7 linked regions of the Homo sapiens genome follow. The protein of the gene in region 4 purifies or fractionates together with the protein of the main gene of each other region. This does not show direct contact. Each region holds a gene or a part of one and is shown on either strand. Other genes may lie near its edges. The genes, in order: SORL1, ATF6B, GALNT18, OS9, EDEM3, PLXNA2 and TTC17.

Region 1 (3,950 bases), on a different chromosome or scaffold from region 4:
ATTTTACTGTATGTGCCTCTGTACAAGATGTAGCTTTGAGAGCTACAAAATGATAACACTGCTTTATTACACACTGGTTTCATTGTCATTGCAAAAACTTACCCTGGTTGTGGGGGAGAGTTCTAGATCTGTGCCATGATCCATACACTGGCTAATAGAGTACATAATTTTTCCATTTTCCATTTTTTGTTTTTACTTACTACTGAAGGATCTCAGATGTAAAATTATGTATTTGGTTTGAGATGGCCACTTATTGTCCTTAAAAATCCATACTGATATATGCAGTCATTTTGAATTGGACAGTGCCTTCTCTTTTTTTTTCTCCTCTTCTTCCATCTCCCTCACCCATGCCCCCACCCAATCTAAAGAGACAGTGCTGTACATTCTCATAGAGATAGAGAAGATCTAAAAAGTTGAGACTACTCAATCCAGTTAACAACAGCAGGAGCACTAGAGTTTGTTCATTTATTCTCTCTGTAAAACAAGCTGTGCTTTTTTTCTTCTGCCTTTAAAATGCCACCCGTGTATTCAAACCATGGCCACTTGATACTTATGTAGAATCCATCGTGGGCTGATGCAAGCCCTTTATTTAGGCTTAGTGTTGTGGGCACCAATGTCGAGCATCGTTGTGACTTGTGCTGTATGATTCTCACTGAAGAATTTCCTTTCAGCCAAGAAGCAGTGAGGTCTGGGAATATTCCAAAGTCATGTCTCTGAATATGTGTCCTTGACGTGCAAGCTTTGTAAAACCCCATCCCCGCTTAGGTGCGAGGCATCACCTTCTCACAAGTGTTTAGTTTCTTTTAACCACAAGTATCATTCTTGGGTGATAATATAGTTTCATTCTACTTAGGGATTGTTTAGAAAACAAAGAAAGAGCCAATTAAATTTTTTAGTTTTTGAAATTTTTATTTATATGTATACTTAGATGAGTATTTTAAGCTGTCGACCTTTAGTTTGCCATACGGGTAGGACTGTATTTCATGTTAACAACTGGTGGTAATGATAAGCCTTCTTCTAGCGTATTTTCTCTTCTTTCCTGTCACTTTCCTAAGTTTTTTTTTTTAAAGACTGGAATTTTTTTTGGCTTTATCTTGTCTTACCGTAGAGATTTGTTCAAAACTCTAAGCCCTACCACCTCCCCTTTAATAAGCTCTTTAAATAGTTGAATCATTAACAACCTGGTGGGAGGCAAGTCATTTAATTGAACCACTAGGAAGTGTATTTTCTTTTCTTTTTCTGCCAACTTTTTGGTGGCATTTGTAAAAGCTGATATAAAAGGCTCTGAGATGTTATTTTCAGTTATTCCATAGGCAAGCCTTTTTACAGAGCATATGTCTCCAGTTGGCAGCTTGAGATATTTCCGAGCATCCGGTTCTAGCTACCAGTGCCTCCCAATGCTTAGTGCACAGTACTGTAGACTGGCCATCACCCCTCTCCTTGGAAAATGCCACTGTGCTGTTTGAAAAAAAGCAGCCTTTTAGGGCTAGAGTATTTTATATAAACAGAAGAGCTAAGTTCCTGAAGACTAAGCTAGATAGCTGCAGCTATATGTAAATTGTATATTTTTATGAACTTTTGAAGCACACACTCCTGTTTCCCTCTGTGTAGCTTTGTGGGGATTTCATGTATATATGCTGTCTGAAAGAATCCAGAGGTTGGAGTGCCAATAGAAAATGAAAACAAATGCCTTGTACTACAGGCAGCCTCTGAAGGTGACCACATAACTGTCTTCACTGTGACCAATCGGAGTCCCTGCTTGCTTGTGAAGAAGGGGCTTTTGTACCTTGTTGGAGATGCCACCTCAGAAGTTCACACTGTGCAGGAAAAAGGTTTTATTCTCTCCTGGCATACATTAGAATGTCAGATGCTTGCATCCATGTGGACCACGATGGGCCTCTAAAAATTGGTGGGCAGGGGGTTTGCTTATGAGTTTTCTCTGGAAACCGATTTTACTCCTGGATGTATTGAATGCCCCTTGAGCTTTATGAGATACGAGTCCACATGGATAAAATGTTAGAGAGTGGAGTTCTACAGAGGATTCCAGGAAGAGGCCATGTCTGTGCAGTCCTAGTTCCAGACAGGTGAGAAGCTCCAGGAACTACTGGCTACCTTGACAAGCTGGGTAAATAGTTATCATTCTGGGTAACTGGTTGAAACTCTGACTTTTGGACAAGTAATTCCTGGGGTTCTGTCTTTGGTAGCATCACCAGGGATATTTGGGTGGGACAGACAGAAGACACACAGCTGCCTGTTCTCTCCTGCCCATCATGTTTGGCCCACTAGATGAAGCTGTACTCAGCAATTTAGGGAATGTAACCCTTCTCAGAACTGGCCATTTTCAGGGGAAGCTTGGGAGAGCAATAGTATGGTGAGCCCCTTAGAGATGAGCGCCTACTCCTTCTTGGCGAATGCTGCCTTCAGATGCTTACCAAGTGGTCACTGCATCTAGTAAGATTATATTTCCAGTACACTTCCTTAGGGCAGAAACACCATCCTATCAGGTTTGGTCAGTCCCTTCTTCATGAAGGGAGTCATGGGGAATTCCTGAAAATTTTCTTCCTTCTGCAGACAGTTGGATGAGTCCCTTAGAGAAGGCATCCAGAGACATAACTAAACTGAATATCATCCCATATTGATTTTAGGAATTGACTCTAAAACTCTGTGCAGAATCTTGTGTTGGGATTGTATCTTGACATTCCTGTTGTGTTATTTTTCTTAACTGGAGTGTGTGCTGCCTTTCAGGTACAATTTTTGTGTAATAAAAGCCAGTGCATTAAGTTTATATAGACTACTTTCTATGCAAGACTGAGATATGGAATAGATAGGAAGAGATATGTACTGCTGGGTACATGGACAGTAAGTGTGTTTTCAGATGGAGTACCAGCACCGAAAATGGGTTGAGGGAGGATGGGTTGTATGTATGTTTCTGCCCACTAATTTTGAGCAGCCATATTATGAATTAAATCGTCACAGCCAAGTAATAACCCAAGAATGGTATGAGTTTCATGTGTAATAGCTCAAATGGAATAAGCATGAATGCTGGAGTGGACCATTATCCTCAAATATTCTATGTCACTTCTCATTTAAAGACTCTTGTTATGAACTATTAGAAACTTTAGGCAAAATCAAAAGTATTTGCGGCAAAATAAAGGCCTATTCTACTCTTATTTAAAGTGAAACACTGTATACTTGTTTCTCTCCAAAGCGAAATTAAGTATTTATAATTTCAATTGCCTCGATAAGTTTCCAAGTCACTGAAATCTGCTGAAGGTTTTACTGTATTGTTGCACAACTTTAAGATAATTTTTGTCTCAATGTCAACTTTTTTCACTGAATAAAAATTTAACTGGGTCAAGAAAACACCTCTTTGAAAATCCACTGTCTCTGTGTGTCTCGAGCTGTTCTTTAGAGCGCAATAAAGATGGCTGACGCAGTCTCCAAACCCCATTTGATTGGTCTGTTTTAAACGGATGTTTATTTCATAGATGAGAGAACACCAAGGCCTGGAATAATTTTGTTATTAACAAGCTGGTCTCAGATGGTGGATCCTTGAAGAACACGATGTCTTTGTGTTGGTTGAGGAGGGGGAAGATGTGCTGGCTGTTTTGAAGTAAACAGAATTATTCCGTAGGGACAATGACTAAAGTGGCTCCCTTAAATTTGTAACTACATTTGCTAAGAGACAGTTTGCTAAGAAGGCAATTTTCAAATCTAAGAGACGGAAGCACAGCAGTATAGATGAGCTGTGTGTCTAAGAGCACTTCTATGGGTTTCCATAGACAGTCTTGTGAGGAGTGCTGCGTGTACCTATTATGGGCAGCTGAATGGCCATGGGCCTGTAAGTCAGGATTGGAGGCTGTGGAACTGGGTGGGGGAGGGAGGCAGGTTTTTAAGAATTTAACAGGTCTTCTGGTATGCTGCTTTTGTTTAGACACTGAGCCAGAGCC
Region 2 (3,500 bases), on a different chromosome or scaffold from region 4:
CTTTGAACCTGAAAATAAAACTCTTCTGGCCCTAGATTACAGGCCATCCAGGAGGGGCAGTCACAGAGCTGCTCACCTGCTGGCTCTCCGCCCCGCTTTTCGCCTAGTGCTTCCCTTTCTCCTTTAGTGGCTCCTCTGATTTTTCTCATCCCTGCTCCATGTTCCTCAAAGCTGTCTTTGCCCTTCTGCGTTTCCCTCTTTCTTGTTCACAGAACTTGTCTATTCACATAGAATAGGCCTGAGCAGGGGAAGTGGCAGGGGGGTCTCCAGCATTCACATGGCCCAAATTCCTATCTTGCTGGATTTCCACCTTATCCCTGCCCAATGCATCTCCATGCTGACAACCGCCAAGTGTGCATCTCCCCCTGGCTGCTCACCTGCACCAGATTCTGACTTCCAAGCTGCCTGCTGGTCCCTTCCATTCTCATGCCTCACCAGTCACCCAAATCTAACTGGCCATAAATGAGGCTTCCTGATTGCCCCGTCACACAAGTTTTCCTCCCAGGCACCAAACAGCAAAGCCTCAGTCACCTCTGAGCCTCCATGGCCTCCAATAAATCTGCCTTTATGACTTGTTGATCACTCCATGAAAGAAAATGCTAGGCCCCATGTCGGTGAAATAAAACCCTTCTGAGGGCCAGATTCAGCCCACAGGTCAACAGTCCACCACTACCTCTGGTCCATACCGTTCACTTTGGTACTTAATTATATGATCACTAAGATTGCTTTTTAAAACTTCAATTTATATTTTTGAATAGATAATACAGTCATGATACAAATCCAAACGAACAAAGGAAAATTAAGTCAAAAAAAAAATCTTGGCGGGGCACGGTGGCTCACGCCTGTAATCCCAGCACTTTGGGAGGCCGAGGCAGGTGGATCACGAGGTCAGGAGATCGAGACCATCCTGGCTAACACGGTGAAACCCCGTCTCTACTAAAAAAATAGAAAAATTAGCCAGGCGTGGTGGCGGACGCCTGTAGTCCCAGCAACTTGGGAGACTGAGGGAGGAGAATGGCATGAACCCAGGGGGCGGAGCTTGCAGTGAGCCGAGATTGCGCCACTGCACTCCAGCCTGGGTAGAGCGAGACTCTGTCTCAAAAAAAAAAAAAAAAAAAACTTCCCTTCCCGGTCCTCCAGTCACTCAGATTCCCTACACAGAGATAACCACTATCAGAACTATTTAACCATGGCTGGGCATGGTGGCTCACGCCTGTAATCCCAGCACTTTGGGAGGCCGACACCCAACGCAGGTGGATTGCTTGAAGCCAGGAGTTTGACACCAGCCTGAACAACATGGCAAAACCCTGTCTCTACCAAAAATACAAAAAAATAGCCGGACATGGTGGCACGTGCCTGTAGTCCTAGCTATTAGGGGGGCTGAGGCAGGACAATAGCTTAAACCCAGGAAACGGAGGTTGCAGTGAGTGGAGATCACGCCAATGCACTCTAGCCTGGGTGACAGGGCAAAACTCTGTCTCAAAAAAAAAAAAAAAAAAAAAAAAAAGGGAACTATTTAACCATGATGTATTATAACCCTCACAAAACTCTCCAAAAGCAAGAACTATGTCTCATGTCCATTGAGGGTAAAGTACAGGCCCTCAAAAAATACCTAAGTATGGAGGAGAATCTGACTCTAATAACACTATGCAATGCAAAGCCACCAACAATCCTTACAATCCTTTTGCTGCTAATAGCAGTGGGCGATCTCGGCTCACTGCAAGCTCCGCCTCCCGGGTTCACCCCATTCTCCTGCCTCAGCCTCCCGAGTAGCTGAGACTACAGGTGCCTGCCACCATGCCTGGCTAATTTTTTGTATTTTTAGTAGAGATGGCGCTTCACTGTGTTAGCCCGAATGGTCTTGATCTCCTGACCTCGTGATCTGCCCGCCTTGGCCTCCCAAAGTGCTGGGATTACAGGTGTGAACCACTGTGCCTGGCCTGCTAATGGTATTTCAATCCTTATTTTGTGTATCTTTTTTATAACATGTATTAATCTGCTAGATATAATCTGTTTGTCCCTCCAAATCCACTTTCCATCCCTCCCTGCTGTGCTCCCTGAGATCCAGGGAGAATCTGAATGGACTGCATCAGCGGGCTCCCTGGTTGGAGTTCAGCCAGTGAGAGATGGTGCCAGGAGATCCAGAAGGTACTTTGAAATCAACAATCAACATGTCAACTGGGCATGGTGGCTTACGCCTGTAATCCCAGCACTTTGGGAGCCAAAGTGGGTGGATCACCTGAGGTCGGGAATTCAAGACCAGCCTAACATGAAAGAAGCCCTGTCTCTACTAAAAATACAAAATTAGCCAGGCGTGGTGGAGCATGCCTGTAATCCCAGCTACTCAGGAGGCTGAGGCAGGAGAATCGCTTGAACCCAGGAGGCAGAGATTACAGTGAGCCAAGATCACACCACTATTGCACTCCAGCCTGGGCAACAAGAGTGAAGCTCCATAACAACAACAACAACAGAATCAACATGTCCAACGCTGAATTCATCATCTTCCCTGACCAGAAAGCCCCTGCTTTTGCAGTCTCCATCCAGTGAACAGTAACATCACCCACCCACAGCCATCCTAGCCACAAACCTCTTTGACTCCTACCTCTCTCCAATGTCCAGGAGGTCACAACTCATCTATTCCACTTCATTCTTTCTCAAGTCTGCTTTCTTCATGACATCCGAATATCTTACTTGATCAACTGCATAAGCTTCTTCCTTGGTTCTCTTGCCTCTGGCCCTGCCCCTCTGCAACCCATTCTCTACTTTGCCACTAGAATCATCTTCCTAATCATATTACTTCCCTGCTTAATTCTCCAAAGGCCCCCACCTATCCACAGGATAAAAGCTAAGAGCCCCTTAGCAGGGGCCCCACCTGGCCCTGTAGCCCCTGCAGTTCCACATCACTCCCCAAATCCTTCTTACATCCACTCTGAAGAAATGCAGGGTCCTCAGACACAAGTCAACCCCCACACTGTCCTCCTGGCTAATTTCTACGTGTCCTTTAAAACTCTCAGGAAACCCTTCTTCCAGGGGCACATCCCAGATTCAGCGCCAATGTGGATGAAATGTCCCCTCTTATGAGCTTTCATGGTACCCTCTAGTGATTTTTTTTTTTTTTCCAGACGGAGTCTTGCTCTTTTGCCCAGGATGGAGTGCAGTGGCGTGATCTCGGCTCACTGCAAGCTCCGCCTCCCGGGTTCATGCCATTCTCCTGCCTCAGCCTCCCAAGTAGCTGGGACTACAGGCTAATTTTTTGTATTTTTAGTAGACACGGGGTTTCACCATCTTAGCCAGGATGGTCTCAATCTCCTGACCTCGTGATCCGCCCACCTCGGCCTCCCAAAGTGCTGGGATTACAAGCATGAGCCACCACACCCAGCCCCACCTCTAGTGATTTCTATCCTAGAATGACCACACCTGTATTGACTGGTACTTGTCTTTCTCCCATTACCAAATCACAGGGTTTGAAAGTCAGCATGGTGGTCAGGTCTTGTTCATCT
Region 3 (3,500 bases), on a different chromosome or scaffold from region 4:
AGGGTAAATAGATGTTACAAGAACACCACCCAGAAATTCAATTTCCTTTTAGATTTATTTACTCTCCTGAATTTGTTTATACCACCATCATCCCTCACAAAAATGTAACAGTCTGATCTTTCCTCTTTTCCTGAAACAGTTATTTTCAACTTTTTTTTTAAAGAAGTACAACTTTTTATAAAATGAAATATTTTATAGAATGCCAAATAGAAAACAGAAGACAGTGGAGTTTTGTTGTTTGCAGGGAGGGGAGGGAGCACCTACAGGCAGAGTCTGGGAGACCCCACTTAACCCTTTTAATTCTCAGGCCCCAGATCAAACCTTCTACAAGTTTAGGTCTCCTGGGTACACAGTTTGAAAACCACTGCCCTAAGGCATCTATGTAAAATTAAAATTATGTATGTAACATATAATACAGGCAAAATATTTATGTATCAAAAAAATTTGTAAAATACACAAATCACAAACACTGAGTCTTTTTTTCTTCTTCTTCTTCTTCTTTTTTTCTTTGTAGAGATGGGGGTCTCACCATGTTGTCCAGGTTGGTCTTGAACTCCTGGGCTCAAGTGATCCTCCCACCTTGGCCTCCTAAAGTGCTGGGATTATAGGTATAAGCCACCACGCCTGGCCAAACACTGATAGTCTTAGAGAACAATAAGCAAGGACACAAATAGTCCCACAAGATAAAACAAATACCAGGGGTGGGGGAGGATATTAAGTTCTAGAGTAATCAAAGGAGTACAAATCAAAAGAATAGAGCATTTGACAGGGATTACATTTACTCGGAAAAATTTGAATGATAACACCCAATGCTGGCCAGGCTCCATGACTTTGGTACAATAAGACACTGTTGGTGGCTGTAAAGAAAGCCTTTCCTTCTGAAAAAACAATCTTTCATAAAAATGTTCAGACTCTTTGAGTCAGTACTAATCCCACTTCTGGAAAGACATCCTTAAACATAATTCAAAAAACAGTGAGGTGAAGATGTTCATTTCTGCTCTAATTATAATAGCAAAACAAATGTCCAATAATAGGAAAGTGGTTGAATCAATAATAGTATACTGATGACAGAATACTATGCAGTCATTAAAAATACAGTAAAAGTTCTCTTTAGAAACTCTCCATTTAATCAATTCTCCAGATTAACTATGCTTGCCATTCCCTCTGTAACAAACCCTATTTGTCTCTAGTACCACTGCCCACAGCTCCTGCAAATAGTTGAGTTTTACACTTACCAGTGGTCCACTGGGTTTGTTCTCAAACGTGTTTACACTATTTGTACTTGTCACTGTAACGGCATAACCTAATCACGTATTATATAAACCAATGAAATATGACGGCTAAAAAGATGAGTGTTGTTTCTAAGAAAATTACTTTAAGTTCTAAGTGCTTTGCAAAGGTTTTATAAACGGTAGTCAGTTAAAGAATAGCAATCAAATTACATGTGAGCAAAATCATTGCAAAAGATCAGACAAAAATCGTAACAATTTAGGCTACTACACTGAGACTGCTTCATAAGCACCTTTAAGTTTCCAATGAATTTTAAAGAAAACAGAACTATGGGATATTATGGGAGTGGTTTGTGCAAGGAAGATGAACAGGACGCCAATTGGCAGATGCATCCCAAAGACAGAACTTTGGCCTGATATCAAAAGTCTAGCAAATGAATGTACATTTTGGAAAACATTAAAATAAAAATATTTAATTGTATGTATGTAATACTTTGTTGTACTCTCCTCTTTAACCAATTTTTCTATTAACTAACTCAAGCCCTGACCACGTTGACTAAAAGGGATTCTTTGTCCTTTGAAAACAAGTCCGCTATGACAAGGACCAAGAGTGCCCATACTCCTGTAGAGTGTCTCTAGTATACAGTTCACCACTGTAATCACTTTCTCAGTGCAGTGTCTGGCACACATTAGGTCTCCAACAGATAAATGTTAAACCAATAAACTATGTAGCAAATATGGAAAAAATAGTGCTTCGTTAACAAAAAGAAAGTGAACAAAGCAGAATATAAAATTACATGTAAATCATGACTACACCTTCATTTTGAAATATGGAGGCAAATGAACAAATCCAGAAGGAAATGCTCAAAATGCAAACTGATTTTTAGGGTAGAATGAATTATGGGCAATTTTATGCATTTTTAAATATTTTCTTAAACATTGGCACATTCTTTTCCATATTCAGAAAGCTACTAAGAAAAGAAGAAAGCTATCTTTATTTTTACTGAATTTCCAAAATAAGAACTGAATCAACATTTCCATTTCCTGCACTCTCCAACACTGAGAACTCCTTTAGCAGATTCTTGCTTCATCCGCCTCACCGTGTCAAGCCATCAGATCTTTCTACTCCTAAGATGGAGAGAACCTGACCCTTACTAACATTTACTTTGTGTTTCTAAACCCCCAGGATGCTTTTTTTAAAAACTCATAAGTTATCCACCCTCTCATTTAACGTCTATTTGGTCAAAAAACTTCCCAAAACTGCAATTTACATTCCCAAGAGATTCCCAAACACCATCTAATTAAATCATTCAATCAGAAAACAAATTAAAATGAAATATCACTGCAACTCCCAAGACGAAAATAAACTTTTCAGTCATGACTAGAACAGACCTCTGGGGTGATGCTCCAAAGCCTCTTCTAATTGCAAGTCCTATGGAACATCCTGCAGAACATTTTGTGACATTTGCAGCTTCAAGGAGACTTTCCTTCTAACAAAAAGAGGAGCCTGGACAAGACTCCAAAGCAAAACACCTTTTTTGGAGAGTGGTAACACTTTCATTAATAACCAACGTGGCCATAGGCATCAGCACTCATCCATTCATCCACGCTTCCACCCCACAGCTACTTTCTGCAGAATGTGCCAGGGACTGTCCTGCATGTTCAGTAAACATTAGTTAAAGGACTGGAACCTCTGCCTCTTGGCATGAAACAAAGCAAAACCTGAGTTTATCTATGGAGTTTCCAAGTGGGAAGGCTGCTGACTCCCTCACCCCTCAGCCATCCTCTGACACCCACTTCCACCACTGTCAACAGACTCCAAGGGACCCTGGGGCCCTCCTGGGAGACAGTTTAGTACGTGGGTAAGAACTTAGACTTCTGAAGCCACACTAGCTGAGCTTACATCCCTATACTATCATATACCAGTGTGTGACCCTGGACAAATCATATACCCTCTCCCTGCCTCAGTTTCCATATCTGTAAAATGGAGCAAATATTACCTACTTCATAAGGTTGTGAAGATTAAATAAGTCAATATATGTAAAGTGTTTAGAATAGGGCCTGACATATCCTAGGTGCTATGTTATTTTAGCTCTTATTATTATTACCGCTTATTCCCTCCAGTTCAGCAAAGTAAACTGGATTGTTCAAAGGGCTATGCTGACTAGAGGGAACTTGACAGTGGGTTACACATAAACAGCTTGTACCATCAAGCACAAGAGCTTGATCTTATTGTCCTTTACCACCCTCTGCCTTCAGAGAGCTGCACTT
Region 4 (3,500 bases):
CACACGGGTTGGAATGCAGTGTGGCATGATCATAGCTCACTGTAACTTTGAACTCCTGGGCTTAAGGGATCTTCCTGCCTCAGTCTCCCAAGTTGCTAAGACTACAGGTGCACACCACCACACCTCGCTAATTTTTAAAAATTTTTTGTGGAGATGAGTCTCACTATGTTGCCAAGGCTGGTCTTGAATTTTTGGCATCAAGCCATCCTCCTGCCTTGGCCTCCCAAAGTGTTGGGATTACAGGTGTGAACCACCAGCCTCTCTTACTTTTAATAGTTATTTTAGAAATTAGAATATTGCATGCTTAATTTATCAAAGGCCAATCAATCTCTTTACCCTCTTTCTGAATGATATAAGAATCTTAGAATTGTTTGAAGTTTTTTACCATATGCACATATATAAAAATTACATATTTATATACAAATATATATACACTTTAAAAAAAATACAGGCCAGGCCTTGTGGCTCATGCCTGTAACCCCAGCACTTTGGGAGGCCAAGGTGGGTGGATCACCTGAGGTCAGGAGTTCAAGACCAGCTGGGCTAACATGGTGAAACCCTGTCTCTACAAAAATACAAAAATTAGCCAGGCATGATGGCAGGTGCCTGTAATCCCAGCTCCTCGGGAGGCTGAGGCCGGAGAATCGCTTGAACCCAGGAGGCGGAGGTTGCAGTGAGCTGAGATCATGCCATTGCACTCCAGCCTGGATGACAGAGTGAGACTCCATCTCAAAAATAATAATAATAATAATAATACATATATGAAGCAAATAAAAGTATATATATACACACACACAATATTTATACAAAACAAGAATATGAAACATAAATTGGTTACCTACAGTTAAGCTGCCTGAATTCAGTTCCTGTTTTTACCACTTAAAGGCTGGTCAACCTGAACAAGTGCCTTAACTGCACCACACCTGTTTCTTGAGGCACGAAGTTGAGAAACCAATATCGCCTCACTGGGTCTTTGTGATAAGTGAGCCAATTTATGTAAAGTGCCATATGCACAGTGTATGCACAATGCTTGACAGATAATCAGTGCTTAGTAAAAGACACCTGCTCTAATAACTAAAGCAAATTATTGTTGGTGATTAAGTGTATTCATCCTTTCTGTCCTGGCAGTTCCTCTGTGACGAGGGTGCAGGTATCTCTGGGGACTACATCGATCGCGTGGACGAGCCCTTGTCCTGCTCTTATGTGCTGACCATTCGCACTCCTCGGCTCTGCCCCCACCCTCTCCTCCGGCCCCCACCCAGTGCTGCACCGCAGGCCATCCTCTGTCACCCTTCCCTACAGCCTGAGGAGTACATGGCCTACGTTCAGAGGCAAGCCGGTGAGTAATTAGAGAAGGAGGAGAAGACGGGGAGATACGGGGGCAGGGGGTGGCAAAAGATCAAGTATTGAATAGCTGGAGGAATGTGTTCCTGGCCTGCTTGCATGCTGTTTCTCAGTAGACTCAAAGCAGTATGGAGATAAAATCATAGAGGAGCTGCAAGATCTAGGCCCCCAAGTGTGGAGTGAGACCAAGTCTGGGGTGGCACCCCAAAAGATGGCAGGTAGGACCTTGTTTCACCTGTTCCGTGAAACTCACTTCCATTTCTTCCCTTCCCCTGATCTTACTGTCCTGACTGACTGGTGGGGTGGGGGGGGGTGGAAAAGTACCATGGGCCCTCCTCCCTTGGTGATAGAGGAGGGGAAGGGACCCCATCCTATTTGCTCCCTTCTGTCTCACCCCTCCTGTCAGATCAGTCTCTCCCTGTTCTCTGTACCCTAGGTGCGAGCCCGACCAAGGATGACAGTAAGGACTCAGATTTCTGGAAGATGCTTAATGAGCCAGAGGACCAGGCCCCAGGAGGGGAGGAGGTGCCGGCTGAGGTGAGACCAGCTGCCTCAGAGGAGCAGGATGGGGATGGGGAGGGTCACTGCAGCTGGGGCCATTGTGAGGTGACCTACATCTACCTAGGGATGCAAGGATATCCCCAGAACCTTTGCCTTCATAGTATGGAGGGCATGAACAGGCTTTCATACTTGACTCTCTCCTTTTCTCCTCGTCAGGAGCAGGACCCAAGCCCTGAGGCAGCAGATTCAGCTTCTGGTGCTCCCAATGGTGAGTGAACCTTCCATGTCTCCTTTACTGAATATATTTTAGGATTGGCAGGGGTAGGGATGGAGGGGAGAGCTAAGCCTGGGAGGGAGGTTGGGTAGCCAGGCCGGCAGAAAATTCATTTTTATAGGAGTTAATACTCTTTGTAGACAGCACTGCTATTTTAGCAAGGTGGCAGAACACAGTGGCTCCACCACTTGGTGACTTTGTAATTCACTTAACCTCAATTTTCTTACCCATAAAATGAGGGTAATAACCCCTACCTTAGAGGGTTGCATGGGATTAAATGAGAATGCATCCATAATTCACAGTAGAAGGCCTGGAACTGAATAAACTAAATGGTTAATATTTGTGGAAAGAGGAGAAGGGTTCCAGGGAAGACAAGCCCTTAGCCCCAGGATCTCCTCTGTAGTCCTAAAAGCTAGAGTGACTGCCAGAAGGGCCTCAGAAGTGCATGGAAGAGTGGGGACTTAGCAGCTTGTTAGCATCCATCTCTCCTACCAGAGTGTCCACCTTAGGATGGTGCTCTCTGCAGGCGAATATTTGCCCTTGTCTCACTGTCAAACAGGTAAATCCTAGAGGCAGGGACCATGTCCTTCCTTGGTCTCTCATTACCTGTCCTTAGGAATCCAGAGAGAATTTAGGAGCGCAGTAGCGCACACCTGTAATCCTAGTTACTTGGAAGGCTGATGCAGGAAGATTGCTTGAGCCCAGGAGTTCAAGATCATCTTGGGCAACATAGTAACACACCATGTTGAAAAAGAAAAAGAGCCGGGCGTGGTGGCTCATGCCTGTAATCCCAGCACTTTGGGAGGCTGAGGCAGGTGGATCACCTGAGGTCAAGAGTTCAAGACAAACCTGGCCAACATGGTGAAACCCCATCTCTACTAAAAATACAAAAATTAGCTGGGTGTGGTGGCAGGCGCCTGTAATCCCAGCTACTTGGGAGGCTGAGGCAGGAGAATCTCTTGAACCCGGGAGGCAGAGGTTGCAGTGAGCAGAGATTGCACCACTGTGCTCCAGCTTGGGTGACAGTGCAAGACTCTGTCTCAAAAAAAAAAAAAAAAAAAAAAAAAAAGAATTTAAACACAACAGAACAGGTTCATGATTATTATTCTTTCATCTCAGATTTTCAGAACAACGTGCAGGTCAAAGTCATTCGAAGCCCTGCGGATTTGATTCGATTCATAGAGGAGCTGAAAGGTGGAACAAAAAAGGTATAGGCCGTGCTTAGGGAATGGGTAGAACCCACCTCCCAACTGCGAGCATTTGAAAAACTACCCTGACCTGGGACTCAACTCCTGGGTCCCCCAGTACCACACACCTGCTACTGTTTGTCTGCCCCCGACCATGTGTCTCTGTTGAAACCCCAACTGTCTTTCTCCCCACT
Region 5 (3,500 bases), on a different chromosome or scaffold from region 4:
CCCGGATGGCATCCAGTATGATACTTCCTTCTTTGCTGAATAAGAACAGCATGGGGATCTTGATGTCATCTGTATCCTTTCCATCACCTGCCATCTGGAACAGAGGGGCAGTATCACTGCTGCTCCCCTCATTGTCATCTAGCCAGAAAATAAATACAGCAAACATCAAAATATCCAGCCATTAAAAAGATCTATCTACTAATTGTTACTGATTTTTTACAATGACAGAATTAATTTTATGCATCAAGAACCATAAAAACCAACATAATTTTTGGACCCATTAATTCTCATAGAAACGTATCCAAAGGAAATAATTCAAAAGTAGCGAAAAGCCCTATGCCCAAATAATTTTACTAGACTATTTATAATTGTAAACAACTGTACACCATTATAAGTAAATTATAATGACCTACTTGATAGGACACACAGAATAATAATACATTTAAAAAGTAGAATACAGAATTCTATGATTATGACTATAAAAATTTCATATGCTTATGGAAAAGCCTAGAAAGGAAAAAATCAATGACTCGGATTACAGTGATAGAACTATGAATGAATTTTATTGTTGAAAATTTCCACTACTGGCATGATTACATTGTTTTACCAAACTAAAAATGGACATTTCTTTTTTATATAATGCACACAAAGAATAGTTATGACTATAGTGCTTCTTCCTCTATAAGCTAAACTAAACAGTATTGCTATTTTGCATTGGTTAAATAATAGTAGTAGAACTATTAATAGTAGTAGTACCAGCAACATGCTGTTTTACTGAAGACGACAATCACGACCACCTCCAAATCGCATGCCAGTCTCCCAGAAGAAACTATCTGTCCTGTCTCAGGGTGCTCACTCTCATAGGACCTGCTAAGTGCAGAATGCATGACCCATCCTCTTGGTAATAATTGATTAGACAAAAGATGGCTACCTGACCCTGAGTCTCTCTGGGGGACCTGGAACTGGCACACAGAAAGACTGTTTCAGTTAGCAGGGGGTAATAGTCCAGTTGAATGACACAGACTTAGGGGCTGAGGCTGCAAACTAGAATGGCCATTTTGGAACTGAGGAACAAAGAGAGAGAAGGCTGGTGAGAAGCTGGAAAATGAAGCAGAATTGCAAAGAGAAGCAGGGAAGAAAAGTTCAGAAGGACCCAGAGGTAGAGATACAGAGAGAAAAGTGAAAAACATTCACTATCATGGATCCTGGTGATTTTTAGTTCCCACTTCTACCTCCTGGTGAATCCTAGTTGTATTTGTACTGTTTAATTCACTAAAAATAATCCATTTCTGTGTAGTGAAAAAACCTCCCTTCTTAAACCAACGTAATTATCTCCTGCAGCCACATGATTTCTAAGATAATTCGTATTTCTAACCCTTGCAACAAAAAACAGCTAATTCCTAATTTATTCATTTATATACAATTAAAACAAAAACAAAATGCTTTGTCAGAAACAAAAAACTCAGGAGAAAGAAGTCAACACAAGAAAGTTTCTCATTAAAAATTAAATTTTTGGCTGGGTGCGGTGGCTCATGGCTGTAATCCCAGCACTTTTGGAGGCCAAGGCAGACCACTTGAGGCCATGAGTTTGAGACCAACTTGGCCAACACAGCGAAACCCCTTCTCTACTAAAAATACAAAAATTAGCCAGGCTTGGTGGCACGTGCCTGTAATCCCAGCTACTCAGGAGGCTGAGGCATAAGACCTACTTAAACCTAGAGGTGGAGGTTGTAGTGAGCCAAGATCATGCCACTGCACTCTAGCCTGGGTGACAAAGCAAGACTCTGTCTCAAAAAAAAAAAAAAAAAAAAAAAAAAAAAAATTTCTGAGAGTAAGGATCATCATCTCTTATTTATTTATCCACAGAACCCAGTATACCATTTTCCAACTAATAGCTACCAAAAAAAACATTTGACGGGCCAGGCTTGGTGGCTCATGACTGTAATCCCAGCACTGTGGGAGGCCAAGGCAGGCAGAACACCTGAGGTCAGGCGTTCAAGACCAGCCTGGCCAACATGGAGAAACCCCATCTCTACTAAAAAGAAAAAAATATATATAAAAATTAGCCAGGCGTGGTGGCAGGCACCTGTAATCCCAGCTACTCGGGAGACTGAGGCAGGGAGAATTGCTTGAACCTGAGAGATGGAGGTTGCAGTGAGCCAAGATCACGCCACTGCATTCCAACCTGGGTGACAGAGCAAGACACCATCTCAAAACAAACAAAACAAAAATTGACAATTATTGCATACTATAGAAGATCATGAGAATTAGACTTCACTGAAAAATATAAAAAACCAAAATACTACACAAAGAAATATTTTTAAACATTAATGCATAAATTCTACACTTTATACTTTACATTTTCATTTTGAAGTCTTGGTAAGAACTGTTCAAAATGATAGTGATGGTTAATATAATAAATTCTGCAATAAAACTAATCTAAGTGTGGGAAATACCCAAGGATAAAGAGCATGATTTAAGTCAGGGGTCGGCAAATCTCTTCTGTAACTGGCTAGATGATGAATAAATATTTCAGGCTTTGTAGTTCTCTCCTGTAAGTACTCAACTCCATCACTGCAGTTCAAAGCAGTCATAGACCATACACAAACAAATTGGCATGACTGTGTCCCAATAAAACTTTTATTTACAAAAATGGGCAATGAGCTGGATTTGGCCTATAGTCTTGTAGTTTGCCAACTGCTGATTTAAGTCATTAAACAGGACTTCTCCTAATGTTTATTAATAAAATTTATGCATCCATTAAATCAACATAATAAGTGTTAATATTCTGTTTTACCTGAACTATTTTTTTTTATTTACCTTAACTATTGGGCGGCAGGGGAGGGGGGAATCCAAAATGGATTTCCCTGTGAGAGAAGCTGTACAAAAGAACTCACAATCAGCATATTGTGAGCCCAGGTCTTACAGTTCTTTCTGAATGTAAACTCCTATTTACTTTAAAACAGAAAAATTTATATTTCCCCTAATAGTCATGGCCTGTTTATCATGATATAAGTGATTGTCTATGAAAGATAAAAAAGCAAAACCCACTAGTTGATACATATAGGTAAGATGATTTAAAGGTGGTAACTTGTCATTTCGGTAGAAAAAGATCCAAGGGGATAAAGATCTGCTAGCAATACTGTAAACCCTGTTATAGTAGCACTTATCCTATGTCTGCTATTATGCCAAGAAATTTTATATATCTTTAAACCTTACAATCACCTAAAATATATTTATTATCACTTCCACTGGAGCTCAAAAATATTCTACTATCAAATAAAAAAAAATTATACTATTTAATCTACAGATTAAAAAACTGAAGCTAGGCCAAGGTTACACTGCAATTTTGTGGTAGAGCCAGGAACTGTACTCTCATGTGTCTGCCTCCAAAGCCTGCATCTTTGTGGAGTAATGGAAATTTTCAATGGCTCCCCACTGGACGTGGCACAGTGTAATTCTTGCCCTTCGGGGGTTATGGATCTCATGGGCACCTTTTC
Region 6 (3,500 bases), on a different chromosome or scaffold from region 4:
AAATCCCCGCTTTATCACTTATAGCTGTGGAGATCTGAGCAACTTACTTAGTCTTTGTGAGCCTTTGTTTTTTAATCTGTAAAATGGGGAAGATAACTCTTGCTTTATGGGGTCATTGTGAGGAGCAAGTGAGATAACACTTAAATTGCCAAGCTTAGCCTTTAGGACTAGCTGCTATTCAATGAGTGATAGCCCCCTTCTTCCTCTCTTTTCTGGGATCAGAGCTCAAATTTTTGATCTGAGATTTCCATGTTATTCCAGAGTCATGTTAAAATCAAGCTCTGGGACCACAGCTTCTTTCATTTATCCTTATTCCCCTCTAAGGCCACCAAAATATTTCTGGGTCCCTGGGTCTTAGTTCTTTGGAGTATCAGGGTCTTTAAGGGGCCATTCCTCTTGCAGCCCTTGCACCAGAAGGGTGTGGTGCTGAAGGGGTGGAGGCAAGGGGCTCTCCACTCTAAGGTCCTGGCCCCACTCACTGTCACCTCTCTCCCAGTGCCTTTGCTATCCTTTTGTAACTAGCCCAGGCTTGTCCCTCTGCTCTGGAGCAGAGAAGAGTGTCATCTTCCTCTTTCCTCTGGCTCAGAAGCAGGCAGGAATCAGCAGTTTCCTCCTGACAAGGCCCCCTCTGGGTTATGGGAACTAGGCTGGACTCTGCAAGCATTTAACCCTTACGGAGGGTTACATTTCCTCTCCACCTCTCCACATTGGTTACGGCCAGTGGCCATAAAATTTTGGCGTTAAAAAAAAAAAAACCAAAGACTATCTAGTCTAGCTTCCTCATTTTACAACAGTAAGATAACTAAGAAAATAGCTGGCTCTTTACTACTGTGATTAATATTAATAATCATAGCGGCCCATTTATTGAATGCTTATTATGTTCCAGGTATTGTGCTAAGCACTTTACATAAATTTTCCATTTGATCCTCATAATAACCATGAAAAGAAGACAATATTATCTCTATTTTAAAGACGAAAAATTTACAGCTCAGACCAGGTACATAACTTGCCCAAAGTCACACAAGGAGTAAGTGGTAGGACTGATTTTTAATCCCCATCTGGTTTACTTCAAAGCCTTAACCACGACTCTTCTACCACACCAAGCAAATGATGACAGGAATAGAAGCGTAGCCTTGGAATGATGTTTTCTTGCTTCAAGTACTGGTGCTTGGTCCCAACGGCAGGCACCTTCAATTTAGAGTACTCAGAAGGTAGCCGTATGGGCCCCTTGGTCTCATATATTTTTTTCTAGGTTGCAGATCCAGAGCCCTCAGCACTGTGTACAAGAAACCTACTTTTGCACTTCTCACACTCCCTGTTAACTCCCTGTGTAATAATAAACCTAACATTTCCAGGCATGGTGCTAATCTCTCCATGTATTATCTCATCTGATCATCCCATGAGCTAGGCATTATTATTTCCATCTCACAGATAAGAATGTAGAGATGCTAAGGTGCTTCTGAAGAAGGCAGGAAGAAACACAGATGGAATTTGAAGCCTGGCTTTTGTCTCAGAACCTCAAACTCTGAGCCACTACATTATGTTGCCAGCTGTCTCTAGCTCTCTCTCTCTTCCTCTCTCTCTCTCTCTTCCCCCTACTAGATTATAAGATCTGTGAGACTAGTGATCATGTCTTTTTTTTTTCTGAGACAGGGTCTCACTCTGTCACCCAGGCTGGAGTATAGTAGCACAATCTTGGCTCACTGCAACCTCCACCTCCCATGCTCAGGCCTCCAGAGTAGCTGGTACTACAGGTGTGCATCACCACACCCAGCTAATTTTTGGAATTTTTGTAGAGACGGAGTTTTGTCATGTTGCCCAGGCTGGTCTCGAACTCCTGAGCTCAAGCAATCTGCCTACCTTAGCCTGCCAAAGTGCTGGGAGTACAGGTGTGAGCCACCGCACCCAGCCGATCATGTCTTTTTATGTTTGCAACCCCAGTGCCTAGTACAGTGCCAGGCATTCAGAAGATCTTCAATACTACTTGTAAATGAATAGAGGGATGGGTAGATGGATGATGGTGGATGAATAAAGAGAGGGATGAATGGATAGATGGAGGGCTAGGTAGACAAATGGATGATGGATAGATAAAGATATGGAGACATAGATTAAGGGAGAAAAAAGAGGGATGAGTGGATAAAGAGATGGATGAAGGGATGGAGGAAGGGATGGAGGAAAGAATGAAGGGAAGGATCAGGGACAGATGAATGGAGGTTTAGGTAAATAGGTGAATAGATGGATGGATGGATGATGGATGGATGGATGGATGGAGAGATGCATGGAGGGAGAGAGCTAAGGAGGATGGAGGGATAGATGGATAGGAGAATAAAAGGAGGGAAGGAAAGGGGATGGATGAAAGGAGAGATGGGTGGATAAATGAATGGATGATTGGATGGTTGGATGAATGATGGAAGAAGAGTGGATCATGAATACTTTGATGGCAGCACCATGAGCCGCTGACAGGGCAGTGCTTGCCACTGATTTTCTTGTCTCTGCTTTCCTCAGGTCTGGATTCTGAGCTTTTCATCCTCTCCTCTTTTGCCTTTGCCCACACTCCTGATTCTTCTCCAGTTTTCCATCAGTTGGTCAAGCCAGACTCCCTTCCCTCTCCTCTGACTTAGATTTCTGATCTCCACTTGACCCCCTCACTGGGAACCACAGTGGCCTACAGCTCTGTGTGTACATGACCTGGTCCCCATTACTTCTGATGGACCCCATCACCTGCTGCTCTTTCTCTCACATACTCTGATCTGGCTGCAGTTGCCTCCTTACTGTTCCTCAGACACTCCAGGCATGCCCTGAATTCTTTGCACATTCTCCTCACCCTTTCTCTCTCTGGAATGCTTTCTCTGGACACTTGTGTGGCTCCCTTTCTTCCCATCCTCAGTTTTTGCTTAGACACCACTTTCTCAATGAGTCAGTCCTCTCAGCTACTGCCTCTCCCCCTTTCCTGTTTATTTTTCTCTATAGCCATTATCACCATTTGGCAAACTAACATGTATTATGTGTTCATTTGTCTCACCCAACTAGCGTGTAATCTCCATGAGGGCAGTGAGCTTTGTAGGGTTGTATGGTTCACAGCTGAAGCCTGCAGCATTTACAATAGCACCTGATGTGATGTAGGCACTCAATACATATATTTGAAATGACAACAAATCAACACACATATCTCAAGTATCTGGTGTACGTAAGACCCTGCGTTATTGGTTACCACCTGATAACCTGAGTCTGAAAACCTCTTTCATTTCAGGTCCATGGTGGTGTGGGAGCAGATGTGCCCCAGGGCATGGACAGGAAGGTTGGAACCTGTGTCATGGAGCAGGAGCAGAGCGAGGTGTGTGCCTCCTTACCGCCTTGGTGCACTGGACGTCCTTCCCCAGCAGCCAGTTGAGCTCCAGGTTGCCCTCGCCCTGGTAGCAGGACTGCAGGCGCTCCTTGATCTGCAAGTTGATGGCCCGGATAGGGAAGGCACACAGGGCAGAGTCATCGGGCGGGTGGTG
Region 7 (3,500 bases), on a different chromosome or scaffold from region 4:
CTTTTGCTATTGCCTGTCTTCAGAGGGCTTTGAATTTAGCTCCACTTCAATACCAAGATGTTCCTCTTGTCAACTTGGCCAACCTTTTGATTCATTACGGCCTTCATCTTGATGCCACTAAGCTGCTACTTCAAGCTTTGGCCATCAATAGCTCTGAGGTGAGGTTTTAAGGGATTTCATAGTTCCGTATACTATGTAGGGTAACTCAAATTTAGATTACAATTTGTATTTTTCTAGGGAAAGCATAAAAAATGTCATGTTTTGTCTTTCACAGTAGCGTTTGCATTATTTCAAGAGAGTGTGAAAAAGCTTTTGTTGTATTTTGATGTGTTCTTTAAATTTTGAGTGAAATTTATAATTACACAGTTAAGTTTTTTTTTTTTTGGAAACTTACATTTAAATAAGAATAACATAAGCTGTAAAAATATACTGCCGCTTTTTTATGTCTGTCTGAAACATCTGGTTTGTATTTTATCCTACTCATCACAGCATGCACACTGCTTAATATTACACTGTTTTACAACTTTAATTTATAGAAATATTTATACCCTTCAAGCCAGAGGACAGTTCAAAGGTGGTTTTGATAAGAATAAATAGATACATTGATTTTCATGCCCCAAACCTCTCACATGCAGCTTATGGAGTTACATCAGTGCTTTGTAGTTCATGGTTTTGAAGATACAACTTTGGTTTTTCATATTTTAACATCTCTGATATCAGGATGGATGTTATAATTGCTGTCATTTTAGGTTTCATGAAATTCAGTTATAATAAATATACAATTAAATTGATTTTATACCTAATGTCTAAATGTTTATAGGTTTTGTATTCAAAGAAACCTTCAGAAGGGATGTGCATGAATGGTTGAGGTTTATTTATGGTGTCTGAAAACTGATTTTTTAAGGATGAGAAGAAAATATTGCCTGTTTTCTTTTGAAATACAGAAATTCACAACTGGATTTTAAGCAGAAGTTTACAATCTCAATATTATGTAACAGGTCACATTGCCAGAGAAGTACATCAAATATTTATCTAGTGCTTACTGTGTACCAGGTGCTGGTACAGTGGGAACAGATGTGATAAAGTGGGCAATGGAAAGCGCAATGCAGCCGTATTCCCTTGAAACTTTTCATGATTCCCTTTTTACTGTTTTCAGCCAAGGGACTTAGGTAGTATTCTTCTGAAGAAAAAAGACCTCCTTTAGTGATCAGTTACCTTTTGATATTTTAAAATCATACTAAAATTTTAGTTGTTAAATACCATGGTGCTACAATAAGAATAAAAAGATAAATTAATGGATCAGGGTGGGTACCCCAAAAATATACCTTTTTTTTTTCTTTGAGACAGGTTCTTGCTCTGTTGCCCAGGCTGGAGTGCAGTGGCGTGGTCACGGCTCACTGCAGCCTCCACCTCCTAGGCTCAAGTAGTGCACCCACCTCAGCCTCCCTAGTAGCTGGGACTACAGGCATGCACCACTGCGTATGGCTGAATTTTGTATTTTTTTGTAGAGATGGGGTTTCACCATGTTGCCAAGGCTGGTCTTGAACACCCGAGCTCAAGCAATCCTCCCATCTCAGCCTCCAAAAGTGATGGGATTACAGGCATGCACCACCACACCCGGCCCCAAAAATGTTCCTTAATCAGCACCCTCTTCCCAACTTTTGGAAATTTTTCCTTATAAGCATGTCTTCTATACAAATATTTCATAATGTTTCAACTCTACTGTACAGGTGATCTCTAAAAAACTTATTCCTACCTAATTTTAAAGCCCTCAATTTAAATGGTTGTATAAAGGACCAATGAATTGATATGCCACAACCTATTTTTCTGTTGCTGCATATTTAGGTTGCTAACAGTACTTAGCTATTATCAATGATGGTTTTCTGCAAAGGCCTTAAAGATTGTTAGCAGTGGAATTACTAAGTCAATAAGAGAATGAATATTTTGATGGCTCTGGCACAAAATACCAAACAACCCACTAAAATGGTTGGGCCAGTATATATTGCCATGAATAAGGTCTAAAAATATTAATTCCACCTGTGTCTTTATTAGAATTGAACAACTGAAATAACTGCCAATTTTTTTGATTGTTTACTAGAGCCAGGCACAATACTAAGCATCTTACATGTAGTAACTAATTTAATCCTCATAACAACCCTGTGAGATGGAATTTCCCCTTTGATAGATGAGGAAACTCTTAAGAGTTAAATGTACAGAGTAAGGGATTTATGGGAAGTCACAGAGCTTGGTGCTTGGTTTTGAACTCAGGGAGATTGGCCACAGGGCAAATACTCTAGTCGTGTTATACTACCTCTGAATTAACATTTATAAAACAAGTTTCGCTTGCTTAAAAATACCACCTCTCCGTTGTAACGTAAAGTTTTATCTTGTGGTTGTTTTTGTTTTTCTTTTTTCCTTTTTTCTTTTCTTTTTTTTTTTTGAGACAAAATCTTGCTCTGTCACCCAGGCTGTAGTGCAGTGACATGATCTCAGCTCACTGCAAGCTTCGCCACCCAGGTTCAAGCTCTTCTCGTGCCTCAGACTCTGGAGTAGTTGGGATTTCAGGTGCATACCACCATGCCCGGCTAATTTTTGTACTTTTAGTAGAAACAGGGTTGTATTTTAATAGAAACATGTTGGCCAGGCTGGTCTCAAACTCCTGACCTCAAGTGATCCGCCCGCCTTGACCTCCCAAAGTGCTGGGATTACAGGTGTGAGCCCTTATGCCCAACCTTGTAATTGTATTTTTAAAGTAAAAGTTTGTATACACATTTTGTTCATTTTAGAATTTTGTTTTTTAGATTTTGTGCAAACCCTTTGTATGATAAACTCTTTAACTCCATCTCTCATGTGTTAAAAATATTTTCTCTCTTTGCCTTTTTATCTTAGCATTTAAAAATTGCCCTTAAGTTTGCCAGTCTTTTCAATGTTGATTTCTATTGTTAGATTTCAAGTGTTCTCAATAAACTGTTTGTTTTTGTTTTCTATGGCTTAATCTTTGAATAGTTGGCTCTCAAATATATAAAGATCTTTTCCTGTGACGTCTCCTGGATATTTTATAGTTTTAGGCTTTACAATTAGGTCTATGATTCATTTCAAGTTAAATTTTCTTTGTAGTGTGAGGTAGGGATCAAAGTTCATATTTACACGGATATCCAGTTCTTCAGCTTCATATCTTGAGAAGACTGCCCTTTTCCTGTTGAATTACCCGTCACCTTTGCCCTGAACTCCAGACTCCTTTATTCAACAGCTTACTTGACATTTCCACTTAGATGTCTAAAGGGCGCTCTAGAACAAAAGGCCAAAACCAAACTCCTTAACGCTGTTCCAAATTTATTCTTCCCAGTCTTCCTCATTTCAGGAAATAATAAAGCTATCTTTCCAGTTGCTCAGACCAAAAACTTAGGGGCTTCCTTCATACCTTTCTCCTGTTCTCAGGGAAAATTCAGTCCACTGGCTAACCTTGTTGATTCTGTTTTCAAAATATACCTCAGATTTTA

The links.
Region 1: the proteins of OS9 (region 4) and SORL1 purify together in Homo sapiens (affinity purification with mass spectrometry; 2 studies listed by BioGRID and IntAct, with this or other methods). This does not show direct contact.
Region 2: the proteins of OS9 (region 4) and ATF6B purify together in Homo sapiens (affinity purification with mass spectrometry; 2 studies listed by BioGRID and IntAct, with this or other methods). This does not show direct contact.
Region 3: the proteins of OS9 (region 4) and GALNT18 purify together in Homo sapiens (affinity purification with mass spectrometry; 2 studies listed by BioGRID and IntAct, with this or other methods). This does not show direct contact.
Region 5: the proteins of OS9 (region 4) and EDEM3 purify together in Homo sapiens (affinity purification with western blotting; 2 studies listed by BioGRID and IntAct, with this or other methods). This does not show direct contact.
Region 6: the proteins of OS9 (region 4) and PLXNA2 purify together in Homo sapiens (affinity purification with mass spectrometry; 2 studies listed by BioGRID and IntAct, with this or other methods). This does not show direct contact.
Region 7: the proteins of OS9 (region 4) and TTC17 purify together in Homo sapiens (affinity purification with mass spectrometry; 2 studies listed by BioGRID and IntAct, with this or other methods). This does not show direct contact.

Annotation. Positions count from the first base shown.
Region 1 is NC_000011.10:121,630,314-121,634,263, forward strand, and holds the end of SORL1 (sortilin-related receptor preproprotein), read left to right. Parts: 3' UTR 1-3,450; downstream 3,451-3,950. UniProt on the Homo sapiens protein: Sorting receptor that directs several proteins to their correct location within the cell. Along with AP-1 complex, involved Golgi apparatus - endosome sorting.
Region 2 is NC_000006.12:32,121,747-32,125,246, forward strand, and holds part of ATF6B (cyclic AMP-dependent transcription factor ATF-6 beta), read right to left. Parts: intron 1-3,500.
Region 3 is NC_000011.10:11,615,506-11,619,005, forward strand, and holds part of GALNT18 (polypeptide N-acetylgalactosaminyltransferase 18), read right to left. Parts: intron 1-3,500. UniProt on the Homo sapiens protein: Catalyzes the initial reaction in O-linked oligosaccharide biosynthesis, the transfer of an N-acetyl-D-galactosamine (GalNAc) residue from UDP-GalNAc to a serine or threonine residue on the protein receptor.
Region 4 is NC_000012.12:57,714,632-57,718,131, forward strand, and holds part of OS9 (protein OS-9 isoform 1 precursor), read left to right. Parts: intron 1-1,128; coding exon 1,129-1,339; intron 1,340-1,457; coding exon of another isoform or gene 1,458-1,460; coding exon 1,461-1,562; intron 1,563-1,780; coding exon 1,781-1,881; intron 1,882-2,061; coding exon 2,062-2,113; intron 2,114-3,238; coding exon 3,239-3,327; intron 3,328-3,500. UniProt on the Homo sapiens protein: Lectin component of the HRD1 complex, which functions in endoplasmic reticulum (ER) quality control and ER-associated degradation (ERAD).
Region 5 is NC_000001.11:184,702,859-184,706,358, forward strand, and holds part of EDEM3 (ER degradation-enhancing alpha-mannosidase-like protein 3 isoform 2 precursor), read right to left. Parts: intron 139-3,500; coding exon 1-138. UniProt on the Homo sapiens protein: Involved in endoplasmic reticulum-associated degradation (ERAD). Accelerates the glycoprotein ERAD by proteasomes, by catalyzing mannose trimming from Man8GlcNAc2 to Man7GlcNAc2 in the N-glycans.
Region 6 is NC_000001.11:208,213,385-208,216,884, forward strand, and holds part of PLXNA2 (plexin-A2 precursor), read right to left. Parts: coding exon 3,351-3,500; intron 3,335-3,350; exon of another isoform or gene 3,251-3,334; intron 1-3,250. UniProt on the Homo sapiens protein: Coreceptor for SEMA3A and SEMA6A. Necessary for signaling by SEMA6A and class 3 semaphorins and subsequent remodeling of the cytoskeleton. Plays a role in axon guidance, invasive growth and cell migration.
Region 7 is NC_000011.10:43,407,420-43,410,919, forward strand, and holds part of TTC17 (tetratricopeptide repeat protein 17 isoform 1 precursor), read left to right. Parts: coding exon 1-158; intron 159-3,500. UniProt on the Homo sapiens protein: Plays a role in primary ciliogenesis by modulating actin polymerization.